Linked DNA regions of Homo sapiens. The protein of the gene in region 1 interacts with the protein of each later gene in a pairwise test. Each region holds a gene or a part of one and is shown in the gene's direction. Other genes may lie near its edges.

What was found.
Region 2: the proteins of SLC15A2 (region 1) and AQP1 interact in binary tests that used the Homo sapiens proteins (3 or more experiments, as listed by UniProt).
Region 3: the proteins of SLC15A2 (region 1) and PLSCR4 interact in binary tests that used the Homo sapiens proteins (3 or more experiments, as listed by UniProt).

Annotation. Positions count from the first base shown.
Region 1 is NC_000003.12:121,939,036-121,945,443, forward strand, and holds the end of SLC15A2 (solute carrier family 15 member 2), read left to right. Parts: intron 1-313; coding exon 314-460; intron 461-1,348; coding exon 1,349-1,453; intron 1,454-1,795; coding exon 1,796-1,972; 3' UTR 1,973-5,153; downstream 5,154-6,408. UniProt on the Homo sapiens protein: Proton-coupled amino-acid transporter that transports oligopeptides of 2 to 4 amino acids with a preference for dipeptides. Transports neutral and anionic dipeptides with a proton to peptide stoichiometry of 2:1 or 3:1.
Region 2 is NC_000007.14:30,914,486-30,922,605, forward strand, and holds part of AQP1 (aquaporin-1), read left to right. Parts: intron 1-7,580; coding exon 7,581-7,745; intron 7,746-8,078; coding exon 8,079-8,120. UniProt on the Homo sapiens protein: Forms a water channel that facilitates the transport of water across cell membranes, playing a crucial role in water homeostasis in various tissues.
Region 3 is NC_000003.12:146,198,353-146,206,472, reverse strand, and holds part of PLSCR4 (phospholipid scramblase 4), read left to right. Parts: intron 1-5,395; coding exon 5,396-5,438; intron 5,439-6,433; coding exon 6,434-6,660; intron 6,661-8,120. UniProt on the Homo sapiens protein: Catalyzes metal ion-induced ATP-independent rapid bidirectional and non-specific movement of phospholipids (lipid scrambling or lipid flip-flop) between the inner and outer leaflet of the plasma membrane and participates in the redistribution of phospholipids between membrane leaflets.

The DNA of each region.
Region 1 (6,408 bases):
TTATGTTTAAAATGTTGTCCAGGATCAAAATGCCTGATAGGGCAAAACGGTGGAAATCCAAACTGCAATATCAAAATATTCTCTTATTTAAAGTCTCTGTCAATAATGATATCTGATTGAATCTAGGCGAGTGAGCATAATATTACGAAAAGAAGTTTTGAAAAGCTGGAATTGTGTAGAAATGCTCAATTTCCTGAAAATGGCTGAAGAATGAAAATACAAAAAGGATGGATATAAGATCGTAGAATGCTGTAGTTAGAAATATTTACTTGAGACTACTGACAAGTCCATTTCCATTTTCTCTTTCCCTAAGAACACCAATCAGGGTCTTCAGGCCTGGAAGATTGAAGACATTCCAGCCAACAAAATGTCCATTGCGTGGCAGCTACCACAATATGCCCTGGTTACAGCTGGGGAGGTCATGTTCTCTGTCACAGGTCTTGAGTTTTCTTATTCTCAGGTAAGTTTTTGCAAATAGAAGGTAGAAATTGAGGCATTGCTTGAAGGACAATGAATTTTAATTCTAGCACTGACTTAAATAGGTATGTTATCTCTTTTGGCCTTGGGTACCTTATTTATGACCCTGAACATATATGACCTGAACATCTTAACTCCCCAGGTCATGACAGTACAGCATGGGAGTCTATGATTTTGGGGTTCTAGGAAAGAGATTAAAGATTAAAATGAAGAGCTGCAGAGTCAGACTTCCCGTGTTCAAATTTTGGCTGCATGACCTATTGTGTAACCTTGAGCAAGTAAATTACTATCTCTGTAATGCTGTCGCCCAGGCTGGAGTGCAGTGGCGCGATCTCAGCTCACTGCATTCCAGCCTGAGCGACAGAGCGAGACTCCATCTGCCTCCCCGGCTCAAGCGATTCTCCTGCCTCAGCCTCTTGAGTAGCTGGGATTATAGGCGCACACCACCATTCCTGGCTAATTTTTGTATTTTTAGTAGAGACAGGGTTTCACCATGTTGGCCAGGCTGATCTCTAACTCCTGACCTTGGATGATCTGCCCACCTTGGCCTCCCAAAGTGCTAGGATTACAGGCTTGAGCTACTGCGCCCAGTCTGTAATACTATTTTTTAAATGTATAAGAATACGAATAGAACTTATCTCTTAGGATTGTAATGAAGATTATATGACATAATGAGTTTAAATATATTCAGTTAGGAGCTTCATCTTATTCTTACTGTTTACATTATTAACACCCTCTGAATCAATGTGATAGCTGAACTTAATAAGAGAAGTTCTAACTTGGAAGCTTTTGTGGGAGAAGTTTCCTGGATGCATGGGGCATGAGGGCAGTGAAGGGGGTTTGTTTACTTTCAAACTTGTGTCATCCCCAGGCTCCCTCTAGCATGAAATCTGTGCTCCAGGCAGCTTGGCTATTGACAATTGCAGTTGGGAATATCATCGTGCTTGTTGTGGCACAGTTCAGTGGCCTGGTACAGGTATGGATCTGAGGGAAGCAGGATTCATTTCTACTCAAGTTTTTCCTCCAGCTTTCTCTTCTCCCTTTCCCCCATCTCTCTGCTTCCCACATTCCCCATTCAGTGCTGTGACATGAAATGGGTTAGATATACAGACTTTACCAGGAAAATAGACATATGTAAGTGGCAATAATGACTACAATATACCTATGTGAGGAGAGGCCAGTGAACCCAGTCTTTGTCCAGCAAAAGTCTGGTTAAACTGGTGATCCCAGGTCAGTCTGCTCCCCACTCCTCATCCTGTAAAGATCTCTTTAGTTTCAGGTTTCTCCATATTCTTCTCATATTTATTTCCCCCTGCAGTGGGCCGAATTCATTTTGTTTTCCTGCCTCCTGCTGGTGATCTGCCTGATCTTCTCCATCATGGGCTACTACTATGTTCCTGTAAAGACAGAGGATATGCGGGGTCCAGCAGATAAGCACATTCCTCACATCCAGGGGAACATGATCAAACTAGAGACCAAGAAGACAAAACTCTGATGACTCCCTAGATTCTGTCCTGACCCCAATTCCTGGCCCTGTCTTGAAGCATTTTTTTTCTTCTACTGGATTAGACAAGAGAGATAGCAGCATATCAGAGCTGATCTCCTCCACCTTTCTCCAATGACAGAAGTTCCAGGACTGGTTTTCCAGTACATCTTTAAACAAGGCCCCAGAGACTCTATGTCTGCCCGTCCATCAGTGAACTCATTAAAACTTGTGCAGTGTTGCTGGAGCTGGCCTGGTGTCTCCAAATGACCATGAAAATACACACGTATAATGGAGATCATTCTCTGTGGGTATGCAAAGTTATGGGAATTCCTTTATAGGTAACTGCCATTTAGGACTGATGGCCCTAATTTTTGAGGTGCTGATTTAGAGGCAAAATTGCAGAATAACAAAGAAATGGTATTTCAAGTTTTTTTTTTTATAAGCAATGTAATTATGCTATTCACAGGGGCCTCAAGAATTGGTATGTATGATGTGATCTGGTCCAGCCAGGGCCTGGCTTGTCAGCTCTCTAGGTTTGATATGACTTTAGTAAATTTGTCAATATAGATGGTAGGAAGCAGAATGCCATTTTATTAAAACACAGGAGAAGTTATATCTCTCTGATTATGATAGTATTTTATTTACTTATCCAAACCCTCCTTTCTCAGTATGGATAGATCATGGAAACCAGATTAGAGATAGTAAGCATTAGTAAACATTGTTCTGGAGAACAGGAACAGGTGTAAGTTGTAGAAATCCTGAAGAGCCAGTCATTCTTTTACAGAGTACATTCTTCTTAGCCTCTATGGCGCTGGTCTATGCCCTTCAGTGAACAGTTGTATAAACAATAATTATAATTTGCAACCTTGTCTTGTCAACCTTGCTGATCCAGCTTTTTCTTATTATTACACCTTGTCTTGCTTATTGCAGCAAATATTCAATAACAACAATGTTTCTATAAGTCCAACTTCCTTTATTAATGTTTCCATTTAGCCTCAAAAATATCAAAGTAGTTCCTTTTTGATGTTGTTTTCCTGATTTACTTTTCCCATAAGTTTTAAATACCATTTCTGCCTTGAAGCCTAGAAATTTTCTTTTTATTCAAAAAAAGTTACATTAATGCTCTAGGTTTGAGGTTCTAAAATGGAAATGTCAATAGAGGAGCATGGTCCTATGTGAGGTTCCTATCAAAATTTGTGGGAGTAGGGATGGTAGAGCATGAGGGTTTTGTTTGTGTATGTGTATGGTCATGAAAAAAAATTGAGAAACATTACCTCATACACAATGAATGAATCAGAGGACAGACACGGGAATGGCACGACTGTGCAGTGTGTTACTAGGAAAAAAGTTCAGAATCACTGTTCTAGAGAGCTTCATTTCCATTGGTTTTAAAACATTATTCTCATGTAGAACAGTGTTGGGTCTCATACTGTTAATGTTAATACGTAACAATGTTCATGTTAACAGGCACCTGTTAATATTAACAGATAATGTTACTGTTAACAGGTAAGAGAAATTGCTCTAAGTGCCCAAACTTTATATACTTCAGTTTTAATGACAAGCATTTCAGAAATATAAGAGCGGCAGCCAGACCAACCAGTTTTTCCAGATATCTTGATGTGAACCTGACCCTACTCCTTTAGAAGACAGCCTGTTCATTTTTAAATAGCTTTAACCCAAACTGTTCTATGACCATTGTTTCAAGAGACATTAACACAGTTCTGTAAATAGAAGTGTCTATGGACAAATAAGTTTGGGAAATGTGGCATACTGTATCCTTTTCTTAACATTTGCATATTAAAGACTCTGAGATATCCTGCAGTAAAGACACAAGATACCTTGTTTAAATTAACATGTACGCTGCAGAACATTGGTTTGGAAAAAACTGTTGAGCAGTTCTTCCTTGTAAGTGCTGAGCTTCCTCTCTGAAACCTCCTACCATTGTTTTTTTTCCCCTGTAGCTAACAAGAATAAGTATAACAGCCGGCCAGGCACAGTGGCTCATGCCTGTAATCCCAGCACTTTGGGAGGCTGAGACAGGTGGATCACCTGAGGTCAGGAGTTCGAGACCAGCCTGGCCAACATGGTGAAACCGTGTCTCTACTAAAAGTACAAAAATTAGCCAGGTGTGATGGCAGGTGCCTGTAATCCCAGCTACTCGGGAGGCTGAAGCAGAAGAATTGCTTGAACCCGGGAGGCAGAGGTTGCAATGAGCCGAGATCACGCCATCACACTCTAGCCTGGGGGACAAGAGTGAGACTTCATCTAAAAAAAAAAAGAAAAGAATATGTATACCCCCTTTTTCATGTGGCAGATGTTTAGCTATTTGGGGAGAACTTTCATGGCTCTTCCCTAATCATCAAGTATTCAAGGTAAAGATTCTCGGTTCCTGTAATGGTTCCTCACCAGGCATAATTTGTCCTTTTACCATCCTACTTTCTGTCTTCTGAAAAACATTCTTTATCTGAAATACAGCAATTAATATTAAGATATCTTAATATGAAGTGCCTGGAGTCAAATATAACATTCCAAAGTAGTCTGACTGGAAGAACTAGCACCTGCCTTTCTTCAAACAATGCACTTCTGTTAATGCAGTGTAAGGTAACATGAGTTGTTTTTGGAAACTACATCATAATGTGGGCTTACATTCTAGCACTTATCACTTAATGACAGGGATACATTTGAGGAATGCATTGTTAGGCAATTTTGTCATTATGCAAACATCATAGAGTGTACTTACACAAACCTATGGTATAGCCTACTACACATCTAAGTTATATGGTATAGACTGTTTCTCCAGCTATATGGTGTAGACTGTTTCTCCTAGGCTACAAACCTGCACAGCATGTTACTGTATTAAATGCTGTAGGCAATTGTAACACAATGGTATTTTTATACTTAAACATATCTAAACATAGAAACGGTACAAAAAACTTTACACATTATATAGATGTATCAAATTATTCATATGTGCTCTGAAAATGTCTATATCTGTTATGTATCAATTTTTTAAAAAGTGAATGACATAATTCATTTGAAAAAATGTGGACACACAAATTGGAAAAGAGGTATAAATGCAGTATTATAATCTAATGGGACCACCATCACATATTTGGTCTGTCATTGACTGAAACTGCAATATAGAGTTTTTCTTAACATTTGCATATTAAAGACTCTGACTATATATGGACATATATGACTGTCACCATTGTAAGACATTTTGATGTTATTCTAAGTGACATGTTAAACCATTGGAAGTTTAGAACATGAGAGTGACATAATGTGATCATTTAAGATCACTTTGGCTGCTAAGGGGAGAATTATCTATAGTCAGGAAGGAAAAGAAGTAAGGAGTTAAGTTAGGAGGCTTTTGCAATAGTTCAGGCAATAGATGGTAGTGACTTGGACAAGGTGATAGTAGTGGAGGTGGAGAGAAATGGTTTGACTTGGAATTAAACTTTAAGCTAGAACTGACAAGATTTGAGTGTAGTTTGGATACACAATTTAAAAGAAAGAAATGCGCCAGATGTGGTGCCTTACACCTGTAATCTCAATTCTTTGCAAGGATAAGGCAGGAAGATTCTTTGAAGCCGGGAGTTCAAGACCACTCTAGGCAACATAATGAGACCCCCTCTCTACAAGAAATAAAAATAAAAAAATTAGCCGGGTGTGGTGGTGTGCACCTGCAACCCCAGCTTCTCAGGAGGCTGAGGCAGAACAATCCCTTGAGCCCAGGTGCTTAAAGCTGCAATGAGCTATGATCACACCACTGTACTCCAGCCTGGACAATAGGACCCTGTCTCAAAATGAAAGAAGCGGTGGGGGGTGGAGAGAGAGAGAGAAAGGAAGGAAGGAAGGAAGGAAGCAAGGAAGGAAGGAAGGAAGGAAGGAAAAAGAAAAGAAAAAGAAAGAAAGAAAAAAGCTCACTCCTAGATTTGGTCCTAAGTAGTAAGGATGAATCAGGATGCAATTTTCTAGAAATAGCAAAGACTAGGATAAGAAAAGTTTTCTGGTATGAGTTTTGTTTTGGACATGTTGAGCTTCTACCCATGCTAATGGATATCCAATTAGAGACATTAAGTTAGCAGTTTCATATATGAGTCTGAAGATCAGGTAAGAGGTTGGAGCTAGAAACATAAACTTGAGAATCATCAGCATATATATGGTATTTAAAGCCATCAAACTGGAAGAGATTTCCCAAGAAGTGAATGTGTATAGAGAAATGATGAGCAAGAAGGACAGTTTGACAAGAATAAGGGGCAAAGAGGTAAAATATACAAAGGAAGCTAGGGATCAGATCATGTAGGTTCGGGTGTGCTGGTGTGCACTTGTAGTCCCAGCTACTCAGAAGGCTGAGGTAAGGAGGATTGCTGGAGCCCAGGAGTTTGAGGCTACAGGGAGTGATGATCACACCACTGCACTCCAGCCTGGCCCATAGAGTGAGA
Region 2 (8,120 bases), on another chromosome or scaffold:
GGCTCAGGCGCTGTCCTGTCCCAACAGTGGAAGGGTGGGGTTCAGGACCTCAACTCTGGGCCTAGAAATAGAGAAGGTACCCCTCTAAGGGCTCCCGTCAGACACTGGCCCTGGAACTGGAGGGGCCTCAGGGGTGGCCTGGATGCCTCAAGAGGAGCAGGGAACAGTCTGGGCAGCAGGTGACACACTCTCTTTCATGACCTGGGGTAGGCTCCTGCAGCCTCTCTGGCCCTGAGCCCCAGCCCAGTCAAAACCTGGGTGGGGCAAGTGGTTGGCATGGAGATTTCCAAGGAAAACAGAGAAAGATGTGGCAGGAAGTGGTTGGGGTGAGTCAGGGGGTGTCCCTTCGGGACATGCTGGGGACAACTTTCTCCTGACTGACTCAGGGCTCAGGATATGCCCTAGAGAGACCGTGGGCCTCCGTCCAGCCTGCAAGGTCCCGGCTAGTTCTAAGAGCCAAATACCAATTTTGGCTAAGGGTGAGAGGCTCTGAGGCTGGGGTGGACACTCTCACCTGTCCCTGTCCTAGCTCAGCCACTAACACCATGTGGCATCACACAACAGACTGGCCTGTGTGGCCCTAGTTCCTGTCTATGAGATAGGGACATAGCAGGGTGTGGCTGGGCTCTGAGAAGTAGGAGATGCTGGTGGACTCAGGATTCCTGGCATTTGCTGGCTTTTTTCATTCTTCTGCTGTCTGGTCTGCTCAGCCGGCTCCCTGCAAGCATGACCAGGGACTGCTGGGTGCTCAATGCAGGGCTGGGTTAGCCCGGCTCCCTCCCGAGAGAAGCCCACAGCCCTAGGTCAAGATAAGCCAGTGCCCAGCTGCCTGTGATATGAAGCAGGAGGCAGATGCGATAAGAGGTGTCAGGGCGGGCCCGGGAACTTTTGAACTTAAGGGGTGGGAGGGCCAGGAAGGCATCAGGGAGGAGGTTTCGTAGGAGCCTGAATGTGGAGACACTGCAGAGGGAAGGGGCAGAGGGACTGTGTGAGCAAGCACAGGCTAGGAGGAGGTGAGGGCCGTGGTACGGGAGTTGTTGGGTATGGTCAGGCTGGGGGTGCATGGGAGGAGGGTGGTGAGGGCTCAGGATTCGGGCCAGGGGCTGCATCCGGGGGAAGGGGTCTGGATTCCCAGAGCCTGTGATTTCAGCCCGCTGGGCTCAGGCAGAGGGCAAAGCTACCCTCTTCGGGGTCTTCTCCCAGCCCTGCTAATTCCAGGCCTGACTGCTCAAGAAGTGTTTCTACCTGCAGCATCAGGGGCCTGACTGAAGCCCTAAGTTCTCCCCTTTATCCCGTTTTTCTGGGCTTCAGTTTCCCCAGTCATAGAGTGAGAGGCCTCTTCATGCCACCAGTTCTCCCGGGGGTGCTGCTGCCTCCTCCAGAGCTCAGGGGAGGGATGGGGAAAGGAAGGCAGAGTTTCCATGTCCCTGCCCAGCCCGTCCTGCCCAGGGAGGGGCTGGGGGCTGGGTGGTGATGCCACATCTGGGACATATAATTACTGTTTCCGCCAGCCCCAGATGAGGGGGAGGGCACAGAGATGGGGAGCTTTGTGGTGGAGACTTCCCTCACCATGGAAAATCCTGACGCTGCTTCCCCTTTAGGGACCTCAGAACAGCCCAGCCGGTCCCAGTGTTGCCCACCCTGATGCTTGGCCCTGACTGGGATTTGCCCTGGGAACTCTGAAGGGGCCATGCTTTGAGAGGGGACACGGCCTCCTGGGATACCTGTCTGAGGGGCTCACCCCCTGCTCACCACTCCCAGGCCACAGCCTCCTGTCACACCTTGCCTTCCCTTCTCCACCCCAGGCAACCTTCTAGCAGCATGAAGTGGCCATTAGCTCACTGCAAGCCAATTCCAGATGGTACCCCCACTTAGTCTAGGGCCCCCACCCAGCAGGGGCCATGGCCCTTACCTTCTGGAAGCACCAATGAGTCTGGAGTCTCCTGAGTGGCTGGGATCTGAGCCCTCACACCGGGAGGTGAAGGCAGGAAAATGCTGTCCGCGAGGCCCTGCAAGTGGCCAGGATCCCCTCAGTCAGGGCTTCCCCATGGGGATGAGAGGGGCTCCTTGCCCACATGGAGTGGTGCCCAGGGGGATCATGAGGGGCTGTCTTCACTCAGCCAGGAGCTACAGTTCTGTGGGGTGGGCAGACTCTGAGGCTGAAATCTCCAACTTAAAAGATATCCGGAAAGGCCGGAAAATGCCCCCGGCCCTTCCAGCAGCTCCTTTCAGTGCCTGCAATCTCGCTGTCAGGGCCCCTTGAAAGGCAGATTTCTACTCAGTGTAAAGAAGGTTGTTGTTGATATTGTTGTTGACACGAAGAAGGGGCTGTCTCTAAGTCAATAAGCTCCCTGCCATTAGGGGTGTGCAAGTAGATGCTTTCTGGTGAGGAGGCTGCTTTGGGGGTGCTAGTCTATGCGGGGGTCCAGTGGGGTGGGTGACAGGTTCTGCAGCATAGGCTTTGTGTCATGCTGAGATCAGCAATTCTGATGGCCTGCGGGGGATCCTGTGCTTAGGTTTCTGGATCTGGGGCTGGAGAGTGACCACCCCGATGTGAGGCAGGAGGCACTTTTGGAGACTGCGGGGGCTCGAATCTGGGCCAAGGCCTCCATTTTACTGATGGGGAAACTGAAGCCCACAGAGGCGTGGAGACTTGTCAAGGTGGCACTGCCTCCTAGCCCTTGATTATTCCTGCTGCTCCAAAGTGTACACACATGGCACAAACACAAACATGCACACACATGTGCTCTTACGTGGAGGACACACACACATGGTACACAAAGCACATTCTCAAGACTGGGTGGTCCCACTCAGACTCTGGGACCCAAGGAGGGTTGGGCGGGGATTCCTCAATGGAGCCTTTTCCTCTCCCTGCCCTGGAGTTAGGAAAAGAAGGAGGGAGGGAGGGAGGAAGCCATTGCTTTGTGTATTGTTTCTTGTCAGGAAGATGAAATGGCTTCTGGGAGCAAATAAAGGCCTTGTTGAGACCTGCTGCTTTCTCACATGGGGGGCTCATTTTTTTCTCTTCTCTTCCCTCTCTAGCTGGTAGTGGCAGCTATGTGGGTGTGTGACACAGGGAGACAGTGAGGCACCCAGAAGTGCCATCAGACATACCAGTGCAAACACACAGCACAGCCTCCAGGACCTCATGTCCTGCAGGGATGCCTGTATGATATAGCTGTTCCCAGGGAGGCCGAGGCACTTGGTCAGTACCTCATCAGTTGATGAAAAAGAGTGTGCATTCTCTAATTCAGGGGTACAGGGTTTTCATATTTTTCTGAAGTCAAGCTTGTTAATTATGGGGTTCAAACCCTCCCTGATCATGTTATTGGTAGTTTTCGGCTGCTTCATTTATTCTGTACATTTCTAATAGAAGATTGTTAACATTTTTCACTCTGGTGGTAGGGTGATCCAGTCCTCCTTGTAATTTTGTCAATTTTCCCCTCATTTATTTTTAGGCTATGTTGTTTGGTGCATACAAGTGGGGGATTTTTGCAGTTCCTTTATAGATTTTTATTTTTTTTTTTGAGACGGAGTCTCACTCTGTCGCCCAGGCTGGAGTGCAGTGGCACCATCTCGGCTCACTGCAAGTTCTGCCTCCCGGGTTTATGCCATTCTCCCACCTCAGCCTCCCGAGTAGCTGGGACCACAGGCCACCACACCCGGCTAATTTTGTTTTTGTATTTTTAGTAGAGACGGGGTTTAACCGTGTTAGCCAGGATGGTCTCGATCTCCTGACCTTGTGATCCACCCGCCTTGGCTTCTCAGAGTGCTGGGATTACAGGCGTGAGCCACCGCGCCTGGCCAGTTCTTTTATAGATTTTTAAAATGTAATTATTGTGTAATAAACCACTTACAATCTAACAAAAAAGAGAAAGAGGGAGTCAGCCCTGGACACATGTGGTCATCACAGACACAGCAGACACTTATCTACAAAGACACACAGAGGCACACAAAACCAGGAATCCCCCCATGTCCACGTGTGAACACCCATGGAGGAGTGACACTCTGGAGCCCACATAGGTCCCCTCACTGCCCAGTGCTGAGTCTTGGAGGCACTGGGGTGGGCAGGGCAGGCCTCGATGTCTCCTATCCCTTGAGAACGAAAGCTCAGAGCCTCAGTCAGGCCTGGCTCTGGAGCCTGCTCTTCCCCAAGGCCAGGGCACCAGGGTGCCCAGGCCAAGTCAGGGGCCCCATGCCTTGGAAGCCACCCTGGTTGGCCTGTCTATGGGTAGCAGGGAGTGCTTAGAGCACATTGCCTGGAGAGATCATCCCTGGGCTGCCCTAGAGCCAGGACACACTGGCAGCCACAGAACCACCTTCTGCCAGCTCCCAAGTCCAAGCTGGGAATAGCCAGGTCCCTTGACTGGGCCTAGGAGTGGCCAGCCCATTGACCTGTGAGTGTAGGGTGGCACAGACTATGGGGCAAGGATCCTGGCTTTGCTGCATCCTCCCTGGGCCTCAGCCTCTGCGTCATCATCTCACTGAGCCATCGCACAGGCTGCCCTCTAGGGCTCCCAGAGGCTAATGATTGGCCCATTGTTTCCCAGCTAGAAAGTGAAGAAGACCGCCCTGGGTCCGGAGAGCATCTCTGGAGCCAGGCTGCCCCTAGCAAGGGTGGGAGTTCTAGAAAATTAGCATTCTCTGCCACTTCTATCAGCACACAGTAAGCCTCCCCTCAGAGGCGTGGGCAGAGAAATGGCAGAGGTCCCCCACTCTGTCTTCACCGAGCTCCCAGGCCAGGAGGAGATGCACCCACATAGGCCGCAGGAAGATTGATTTCCTACAAGATGCACAGAGAATTCAGTGAGGGCATGGTGGGTGGGAGCAGAAGTTAATTCCAGCCAGGGATCTGGGAAGGCTTCTAGGAGCTGGTGGGGTCTGAACTGGGCCTTGAGTAGTGGGCTTACAAGGGCTTAGCACAAAATGGAGAGCTTGTATCTTTCTGACACTTCAGAAGAAATGTGTGGATTATTCTTTCGGTAATACTTGCATTCACAAAACCCAGGGCTGCAGACAAAAGCGGGAAGACAATTGAGAATTGAGAATTGAGAATTGTTCTGATTCTTACTTTTTTTTTTTTTTTTTTGCCTTAATAAGACCTGGGCCAGGCAAAACTACCTGGGGATGTGCAAATATATATGTACATATATATAAAACAAGTGACTACAATGGGAACTGTCCTTGTTTAAGCAAGTTTTCAAATTTAATGGGTTGTAAACAGTAACGTACATTTGAAGTATTTTACCTGCTCTTTCCTGGACATTGAGTTTCAACAGGCCTTTGAGTGCCCCTTCCAATTCTGAATTATCAAGTGTTTCCAGATGTAAATAATGCAAGTGTATTAGATAGTTGAAGGAAGGTTGTCAGTAGATGTTGAAGCTATCAGGGGAGGCTTCCTGGTGGTAGTGGTAGTGGGTATTGGAGAGGAAGGCTGTCAGCCCATGTGGTTCTCAGCAGTCACGAAGGCACATTCCAGAATTCCCAGGGCAGGTGGCTGACCCCTCCCCTTCCCAAGGACTCAGAGTACAGGGCCTGGAACTATCACCCTCTGCTCTGCCCACTTTGCATGAAAAGCATGTTGTCTTTGGGTAGGGGCTGGGGCTCTCGCACCTGGTTAAGAACCAGAGGAGATGAGCTCTTTCTGGTCACATCTGTGAGGGATGGGGCTGGGAGGGTTCTCCAAGGCGGGAGCCACTTACAGCGATGACTCCATTAATCATCGGGGAAGGGCTGGTTTCAGGACTTCTGCCAGCTAGCAATTAGGCCAACCCTGGAGAGCAGAAGAGAGAGGAATAGAAGGAGCCACGAGCTTCCTGAGGGCTCAGATACAGAGGGACAGGGGCCTCACAGGTGCAAGTGTGGGTGGGCATCAGGACTAGCCGGGCTGGCCTCACCAGCCTCAACCCCATTCAGCCTGTCCTAACTCTGGGCAGGCTTCTGCCAGCAGCTCCACCCGCCGTCACTCCTTCTGCCTGTCCCCAGATCCTGCACACACAATGAGAAGAACCAAAACAAGAGTCACTACCACTGCCCCATCCCTCCTGCGTCGACAACTCTTTCCAAAAGCCCTGAGACGGCCCCTTTGGCCTTTGAACCTCCCAGCTGCTCTGGAGAGCAGGCACGGACAATGAGATCCATTTTGCAGATGGGAAGACTGAAGACCAGAGGGAATAGGCCATGCTCATGGTGCCAGAAAGTAGAAGAGTCAGAACCTGAACACAGGGCTTCTGCCTCTTTGGCCCAACCTTGGGACAGAAAGGGAACTGGGCATTGGCCAGAGGGCTGGCGGACCTAAGGGATGTAGCCCTGGGGTCCGCCAGGAAAGGCCCAAAGCTGGGGCTGCAAGGCAGGGGAGGGGATGTGAGTCATTCCCTGTAACCCAGGGCTGCAGACAAAGGCGGGAAGAGAATTGTTCTTGTAGGATGGCCTCAGGGTGGGGCTGGGAAAACCTCCAAGGTGTGCCCCCCTACCTTGGATTTTGCAAAATTCTCTATGGCCTTGGAGACACTCCCATATCCTGAGGATGGGAGCTGGGTAGTTTGTCTCCCAGCTGGGAAGTGTTTGGGTGCACCAGCCCTGCCTGGGAGAAGGCAGCCTAAGTGGCCTCAAGTGGGCATCTTTGCAAGTGAGCCTTTGCTGATGTGGTCCATCTCCCCTGTGTGAGTGCACTTAGCCCCTGGGACGGCCACAAAGCATAGTGGAAGGTGCTGGGGCTTCCTGGGGAGGGGTCCTCCGGGGGCAGCTGCATGGGGAGGGCCTTCATGACCTCACAGCAGCTTCCATTCCCTTCTCTTTCCATGAGTCATGTTTCTAAAAGTGGCCCAGGAGTAAGTGGCAGCCAGACGGTGGTGGCGGGGCCTATCTGGCCAGGCAGAGGGAGGGTGAGGCTGAGGCCAGCAGTGGGGAGGAAGAAGAGAGAAGGAGAGACAGGGAGGGCAGGGCCAGAAGCAATGGGAGACAGGCCTTGGACCAAGGAAAGAGACGGGGTGGAGAAGGAGAGAGAGAGGGTGGAGACAATAGGGAGGCAGGCACAGAGGAGAAAGAGGGGTGGAGGGAGCCAGGACCTCACCGAAGGCCTCCTCAGCCCTGGAATTTAGATGCAGTCGGGCATGGGGTGGAATGTTCTGGACTTTTGGGTATGAAGCCGTGTCCCCTGCTGGGCCTTCCCACCTTTTTGCATCTCTTCTCCTAGGAGTGCTCCTGACCATCACCTTCATGCCTGGGGCTCGCCCCTTGCCTCTGGTCTTGGTACCCCAGAATACCCTGGCCTGGATGCAGCTGGATGCAAAGGCCCCAGCTCACCCCAGGCCTCTCCAGCTTCTAGGCAGAGTGGGGCCTGGGTCTAGGCAGGTATTAGGGGCTGGGCTGGAGTTTCATTAACACAGGGGGTGGGTTCAAGGCCTGATTTCCACTACCTGCCGTGTAGGCTTGCCTGGGACCCTGTGATGGGCTCTGAAGGCCCATCTGAGGGTCCGCCCTTCATGCCTGGGCCTGGGAGGCCTGGGTATCCTTGGGGTCCTGGGACACAGTCCCTGCCTACCCTCCTCACCAGTCCTCACCACCTCTCTCCCCTGCAGCTGGCTGATGGTGTGAACTCGGGCCAGGGCCTGGGCATCGAGATCATCGGGACCCTCCAGCTGGTGCTATGCGTGCTGGCTACTACCGACCGGAGGCGCCGTGACCTTGGTGGCTCAGCCCCCCTTGCCATCGGCCTCTCTGTAGCCCTTGGACACCTCCTGGCTGTGAGTCAGGGGCCCTCCCAGATGGAGGTGGGGGAAGGGAGGGCGGGGGCTGGTGGGGTGCCCTGCCATGGGCAGCCAGTGGGACTCCCGACAGGGCTCTTGCCATTGGGTGGAGGATGGCGGGTCAGCGCTGGGGGCTGGGGGCAGGGTCCTGCCCTGGAGAGGAGCACAGGGACCTCCTGCCCAGCTTGGGGTCAGCACTCCTCTTTCCCTGGGTCTCATTGTCCCCCACCCTGATTGTTCTCTTTCTCCCTCCAACCTCTCCCTCCTCTCACTCTCTCTTCACCTATGACTCTCTGCCTTCGCCCCTCCCTCTGTTTCTTTCCCTCACAGATTGACTACACTGGCTGTGGGATTAACCCTGCTCGGTCCTTT
Region 3 (8,120 bases), about 24 Mb from region 1:
AACAAAGAGAGAAAAAAAGCAGACCAGAGTGAATAAAGGAGATGGGTCAGTGATGACAGATGCCATTTGTGAAACTATAAGAACAGTGATACCAGTTTCAGAAATATGAAGGGGAAACAGCAAGTACAAGGATGTTTATAGTGGGATGAGTATGTTTTTCATAAGGATTTATGTTGAACTTCAAGGCATTCAAGATGTTTTCTTGAAAGAATTGTACAAATGGAAATAGAAAAACTATCATAGAGGATAGTTGTGTTATTTGCTTAGAAGTAAACAGTTAACATCAAAAAAAGCACAAAAGAGAACAAAACACAATACAGTGGGTAAATTACTGAGTGCCTTAGCCCATTGCTTTTTACCACCACCCATCATTTTCATTAGCTACTCTTGTCACCCCCAAAAACAAACAATATAAATAAAAATAATGGACCCTACAAAGAATATTGCTTCAGGCCAAGTTCCAGAGACCCCCTTCATACAACACAATAACTCCCTAATTAACATCTATGTAGATATTCTGCTGCCACCAGGACATGCAGATCAAAAACTGGGGTAATATGGGAAGTTTGTGCACAAATAGTTTTGTTTAAAAACCCATGTCTGAAACTAAAAAACCTGCTTAATGAAAATAAGATAAAGCTGGCAGAGTAGACGCCTTTTATTTGTGGCGTTGATTCCTGCGGTTTCAGTTACCAATGGTCAACCAGGTTCCAAAAATATTAAATGGAAAATTCTAGAAATAAACCATTCATAAATTTTAAATTTATTCTGAGTAGCATGATGAAATCTTGCACAGTCCTGCTGTGTTCTGCCTGGCACATATATCATTCCTTTGTCCAGTGTATCCACGCTGTAGATGTTATCCATAGTATACAGACCCAGAGTCACATCTTGGTTATCAGATTGACTTACAGTATCACAGTGCTTGCATTGAAGTAACTTATTTTACTTAATTATGTCTCCAAAGCACAAGAGTAGTAATGCTGGGAATTTGGATATGTCAAGGAAAGACCAAAGAGAGGCCATAAGGTCTTCCTTTCCATGTAAAGGTGAAGGTTTTTTACTTAATAATAAAAAAATTCCTATGCTAAGGTTACTAAGATCTATAGTAAAATTAATATGTCCATGAAATTGTAAAGAAGAAAAGAAAAATTTGTGCATAGTATATACAGGATTTGGTACAATCTGTGGTTTCAGGTATCCACTGAGGGCTTGGAAAGTATCCCCTGAGGATAAGAGGGAGACTACTTTATTGGAGATTCCATAGAACCTTCTGAATCTTTTTTGTTGTTGTTTATAGAAAAAGGAAGTGCTGAAATACATTATAAAGAAGAAACTTCCCAATTTAATACTTACCTCCCCAGGTCAACAGCCAAGTATTTCCTCGAGTTCTGTCATTTCTCTTTTCAATTCTGTATATTGACAGGGACCCTGATAATCTTGTGTGCTGAAAACTATTTGTATAATATTATAACATTGGTGTATAGAAGTCAATACAGTTGGATCAGGAAAATTTGGATTTTACAAAAGCCAAAATTTATCCTAAATTATTATTTGGACAAAATTTTGACAAAATGCAAAACTCATTCAGGTGAAGTGCTAGAGTAAACATCTACATTATTTCAGAAGATAATAAAATGTTTGTAGCTTATCAAGTTTAGAAAGTCTCATTTCTATACTTGGTGATAAATACAGAAGTTGTTCTTGGGAATCTAACATCTTCTACAGTCAATTCTCTTTTCAAATTGTATAGCTTTGTTTATTTAAATATTAAAAACTTGTTTCTTAATTTCTTTTATGATTCTGACAGAGGTTAATTTAACGTATTTTATGAGTTTTCCCTTTTAGGAATATTTAGAGTTAAAGAAATAAGTGAAAAAATAAACAAAACACAGGTTTGGACCCAGGCAAACCTGGTTTTTTAATTCTGTCCTACTCTCTAGTAACTCAAAAACTTTGATAAAATTTCTAACCTCTTGCTGCTTGAATTTTATCATCTATAAAATAGTATTATCAATACCTACCTTACCAGATTGTTAGGAGAATTTTTAATGAGATAAGGGTCACAATGTGCCTAATATTTTTGACATAAAGGGCCGTCCCAATGGATGAAAGCTATGTGGCTGTTATTAGCTTAAATACCTTCTTATGTGTGAATGCAAGACATAGAGCCAATCTTTTTCCTCTATCTACCCTAGTCTTTTTGAGATCTCACATGAAGATTACATGAATCTTTATCAAGGTTCCCAAGAATCCTAAAACATCCAAATTAGCACGATTATATTATTTTCAGAGTCTTGGCTTTACCAGTGACTTTACCAATTTGTCAAAGAACTACCCCTTAACAGACACATATTATTGAGTTCCAGGAAGGGACACAATAATATTGAAATTAGGCCAGTTAATAATCCTGTGATGGCCTCTGAGTGTTCAAGTGAAAGAAACAATTGCACATCTCTCACTGTAAATAAGAAAGCTGGAAATGATTTAGCTTAATGAGGAAGGCATGTTGAAAGTTGAGATAGGCCAAAAGCTAGTCTTCTAGCACCAGTTAGCCAAGCTGTGAATGCAAAGGAAAAGTTCTTGAAGGAAATTGAAAGTGATATTACTCCAATGAACATATGAATGGTGAAAAGTAAAAGAGCCTAATTGCTGATATGGAGAAAGTTTTAGTGGTCTAGAAAGAAGATCAAACCAGTCACAACATTTCCTTAAGCCAAAGCATAATTCAGAGCAAAGCCCTATCTCTCCTAAATTCTATGTAGGCTGAGAAAGGTGAGGAAGCTACAGAAAAAAAAAGTTTGAAGCTGGCAGAGGTTGGCTCACAAGGCTTAAGGGGGGAAAAAAGGCACTTTTGTAACATAGAAGTGCAAGGTGAAGCAGCAAGTCCTGATGTAGAAGCTGCAGTAAGTTTTTCAGAAGATCCTAACTATAACAAGATCATTGATGAAGGTGACTCTGCTAAACAACAGATTTTGAATATAGATGCAACAGCCTTCTGTTGGAAGAAGATGCCTTCTAGGACTTTCATAGCTAAAAAGTAGAAGTCAACGCCTGACGTGAAAACTTCAAAGGACAGACTGACTTCCCTGTTAGGGTCTCTTGCAAAACATTACTACTCACTGACAACACATCTGGTCACCCAAGAGCTCTGATGGAGACGTATAAGGAGATTAATGTTGTTTTAATGCCTGCTAACACAACATCCATTCTGCAGCCCATGGGTCAAAGTATAATTTCAATTTACAAGTCTTATTGTTAAAAAAATGAATTTCGTTAGGCTATAGTTGCCATAGATGGTGTCATTTCTCAGACAGATCTGGGCAAAATAAATTGAAAACCATGTGGAAAGGATTCACCATTCTAGATGCCAATAAGGACATTCATGATTCATGGGAAGAGGTCAAAATATCAGCATTAACAGGTGTTTGGGAGAAGCTGATTGCCACTTTTATGATGATTTTGAAGGGTTCAAGATTTCAGTGGAGGAAGTAATTTCAGATATGATGGAAACAGCAAGAGAACTAGAATTTGAAGTGGAACCTGCAGATGTGACTGAATTACTGTAACTCATGATACAACTTTAACAGATGAGCACTTGCTTCTTATGTATAAGCAAAGAAAGTGCTTCCTTGAGATGAAATTTACTCCTGGTGAGAATTCTGTGAACATTGTTGAAATGACAAAGGTTTTAGAATACTACACAAATATAATTGATAAAGCAGTGGCAGTTTTTAGGTGGATTGACTCCAATTTTGAAGGAAGTTCTACTGTGGTAAAGTACTAAAAAGAACATCATGTGCTACAAGGAAATCTTTCATGCAGAGAAGAGTCAGTCAATTGATATGGCAAACTTCATTATCTTTTGTTAAGAAATTGCTGCCGCCAACCTGGGCTTCAGCAATCACCACCCTGACCATTTAGCAATCATTAACATAGAGACAAGACCCTCTACCAGCAAGAGGATTGTGACTAGCTGAAGTCTCAGATGATTGTTAGCAGTTTTTAGCAATAAAGTTTTTTAAAATTAAGATATATACTTCTTTTAGATTAATACTCTTACACACACTGTAGACTACATTATAGTGTAAACATAATTTTAGATTCAATAAGAAAATAAAACATTCATGTCACTCACTTTCTTACAATAATTGCTTTATTGCCTTGGTCTGGAACCAAACTTGTAGTATCTTCAGAGTATGCCTGTAGTTTATATTTTTACTTTTCACTTCTAGATTTTAATACCCTACTTTTCTAAAATGGACTATAAACCATTTTAGTAGTCACTTTTGGTATTTTATGAGGCATATTTATGTCTCCTTATGTCATTGTGTTTTTATGTAAGAAAAAGGTTTTAATTAAGCATAGATTGTGCCCTTTGTACCCTCCTGTAATTAATCACACCATAAAACATTCGTGTTTAGGTACATTATTTTAATTTCATGTATTACTGCATTCATATATTCTTCATTAATTAATGTACTTAACCAATGTTTGGTGAAATATGGCACTTCAGGCAGTGTTCTGGGCTCAGGGATTAGGAATGGTCTAATGGTCTAAATGATGTAAAATTATACAAATATAATCAGTGTGTCCTCAAGAAGGTTTCTTTTCTTCTGCTAGAATGTTCTCACATGTAACAGATAATGTGCCCATCAAACTGCTCATCTTTAGAATGATTCCTAAGATAGAAATTTCTCTAATGGTATATACCCAGCCGTCCTTTTCATGGGTTGCCATCTAACAATGTTTCCTTTCTCTTCCCCTAATCCTGTTCACATGCTTCCTAGTGTAATAGACCCTTCCCTTATTAAAGTGTGCACTTGGGGAAGACCCTGGCCTTTGTAGATCAAGTGAATGCAAGTCAGTTTATAAACCTCTGCTGGAGGTACCTGTAAAATAATATAAAATGGGGACACTCCATGTGAGGTTCACCCTGGCTTGTTTGTTCTCCTTAAGCCACTGAGAGACTTCCCTTTTCTATGGCTGGTCCGTGTTAATCGTTCTGAACTTAACTAAACAACTACAGGCTATGGATGACATGTAGAGAGACCAGTGAGTAGGGACTTATCTAGGAACAATCTATAAGCACAGCTTCTTCTGATGTGATTACTACAGCAAGTAGATGTTTTGTTTTTCTGATATAGCAGACAACTTTTTTAAAGTGGTACTGAAAGAAAGTGTTTTTCTAATATGGACAACTCTGCTAATATCCATCCGATCAGATGCAGATAAGCTAATTTCAGTTGGTAAAATTTTTTTGATTCTATTGACTTTCAAAAATATATTTTGGTATCAATTGATGCATTTTAATATCTATTTCATCAGTTTATTTTACAGTGGTATTTTAGTTCTGTTATTTCTGTCTTCTGATTGCTTTGTTTTATCCCAACAGTTGGACAACATACATGTTCTTCAGCATTTTGAGCCTCTGGAAAGTATGTATAATTTTTGTAGTGCTCAGCAGTATTTTAATCAGATGGAAATTTGCATTATCCAATATCTAGTTCCTTCTTTATATTGATCATGTTTTAGTGGCTCAAAGAAAAAAAAACTGCTCTATTACCCTATCTTCAAGAAAGTAATAAAGTGAATTATTTTGTATAATTTTATCCTTCTATACATCATATAATCATAAGCTCTTAGATTTGAAAAGGGCTTACATTTTATCTGGTCAATAGCCCTACACTTTACCCATTGTTCCTACTCCACATTTACCTTTCAAAGATGAGTAAAAAAAGGAGCCAAGAGACTAAATGAGTTAGCCAGGGACACCACAGTCAGCTAATCACCTCCAGATCAGGAAATAGCATTTAAACCACAGTCAGCTAATCAGTGGCAGAGCTGGAAATAGAATCCAAATCTGCCAAATCGTAGTGCAGTGCCCTCGCTTTGGAAGTAAGAAGAAAAGATCTCAGTCAAAATGATGCCTGTTCTCAGTTCATCCTACAAGAGTACTGACCCTCACTAAACCAGCTGTGCACATTCATTTGGCCACCACATAGGGCCTTTGACTTTTCTTGGTTTGTTCTCTTGTTTGTAATTAGTAATGACCCTACTCCTCCAAGCATGTTTCGTGAACTGATTAATTAATGGTCAAATGTATAATTTTTTTAAATGGTTTTATAATTAAAGTTTTCTGAATTCAGATACTCCAGGAATTGAAACAAAAGGGTTGTTTCAATCTTTTCTTTTATGTAAAATTTTTTTAATGTTTACACTGAACTTCTTAAAAGAAATGTTTTAAATTTTCACAATTGCTTAAATACTTTTAGATAATATGATTTTTGGGGTACTCTAATCAATTCTACATATTTCACCTGAAACTTTAAAAAAGCTATGTTGCTTTAAGCCCTTAAGAAATACTAAACAAGGACTTTCTGAGGCCCATTTTAAATGTTTCTAATATAGACTTACTCATTTTATTTTTTAGTGATGACATGTTTTGAAACTAATAATAGATATGATATTAAAAACAACTCAGACCAGATGGTTTACATTGTAACCGAAGACACAGATGACTTTACCAGGAATGCCTATCGGACACTAAGGCCCTTCGTCCTCCGGGTCACTGATTGTATGGGCCGAGAAATCATGACAATGCAGAGACCCTTCAGATGCACCTGCTGTTGCTTCTGTTGCCCCTCTGCCAGACAAGAGGTCAGAGAATGGAAGTCTGATCCACAGCTTGCTTCTGATCTAACTCTTCATGGCATAGTGTGCTCCTTCCACTACATAGGGAGGATATTCCCTGGCCCTGCCAGCCAGAATGGAAGAAGATAGTGGGGAGGGAGGAAACCAAATTGTCTCGCCTAAGGAAAATCATAGAGGATTTTTTCTTTTTGGTTACTACTTTTTAGTGCTTAAATAAGTGGGTCAAGCACAATTGACATATGTGTAGTCAATAATTATGATTCCATCAGTTGCATCTACTTAATTAGAAATTTACCTACCACATTTATCTAAATGTACGTACCTATCACTAGATAAAGCAATGCTAAAGATAAACATATGCTTTTAGAATTGGAAGGGACTTAAATATGTTTAGAGTACCCATCACAACGCATACCTTGCCACAGATAAAGAGTGGCTCAAAATTACTAAATGGCTGAGGTGTTACATTTGGCTAAGGACAGGGCTGGAACTAGAATACAGATGTGCTGAGTTACAGTGTGGTTACTCATTATCTTGCATTTCTAAGCAAGTTATTTTCTGTAGGGAAAAGAGAAGCGGTTTTGGAGAGAAACCAAACAGAGTCTGAATTCTAGATATGTCACCTACTTAAATCTGTAAAATTTAATTAACCTGTTTGAGCCTTAGTGTTCTTATACATAAACTGGGTAGTATAATACATCATAGGATTACTGAAATACTTAAATGATCTGTTAAATAACATCCTTTACTAAATATTAATTTTTTACAACCGTCTCCAGGCCTTATTTACCTGTAAAATGGAAATATTAATAGTACCTATCGGATAGGATGATCATTTTAGGGATTAAGTCAATTCTTCTGCACAGTTCCTAGCAAATAGTATAGTACTCAATGAATATTTTCTCTTTTCAGAAATCTTACTCCTTTGTTATTATTGTCTTTGTGATAACAGCCTTATATGTGAAGTGAATACCTATTATCCTTGATCCTTTTGGATATAGTAGGCATTTATCTTCATATTTATGAGTTAGATTTTTTTTTAATCAAAGCCTATAGATACAGCCTTCTGAAATTATAGGAAGCCAGAATAAAGGAAAGCAAATCAAAATTACAGCTGGGCAGGATGGTTTACACCTGTAATTCCAACACTTTGAGAGGCTGAGGTGGGAGGATCACTTGAGGCCAGGAGTTTGAGATCAGCCTGGGCAACATGGTAAAACCCCATCTCTACAAAAATAAAAAATAAAAAAATTAGCCAGGCCTGGTGATGTGTGTCTGTGGTCCCAGCTACTTGGGTGACTAAGGTAGGAGGATCACTTGAGCCCAGGATATCGAGGCTGCAGTGACCTGTGATTACACCACTTCACTCCAGCCTGGGTGACAGAGAAAGACCCTTACTCCTAAAAAAAATTACAAGCCTAGTCCAATTTATGACACTTTTGTCTCATAACTTTACCTAGGTTTTT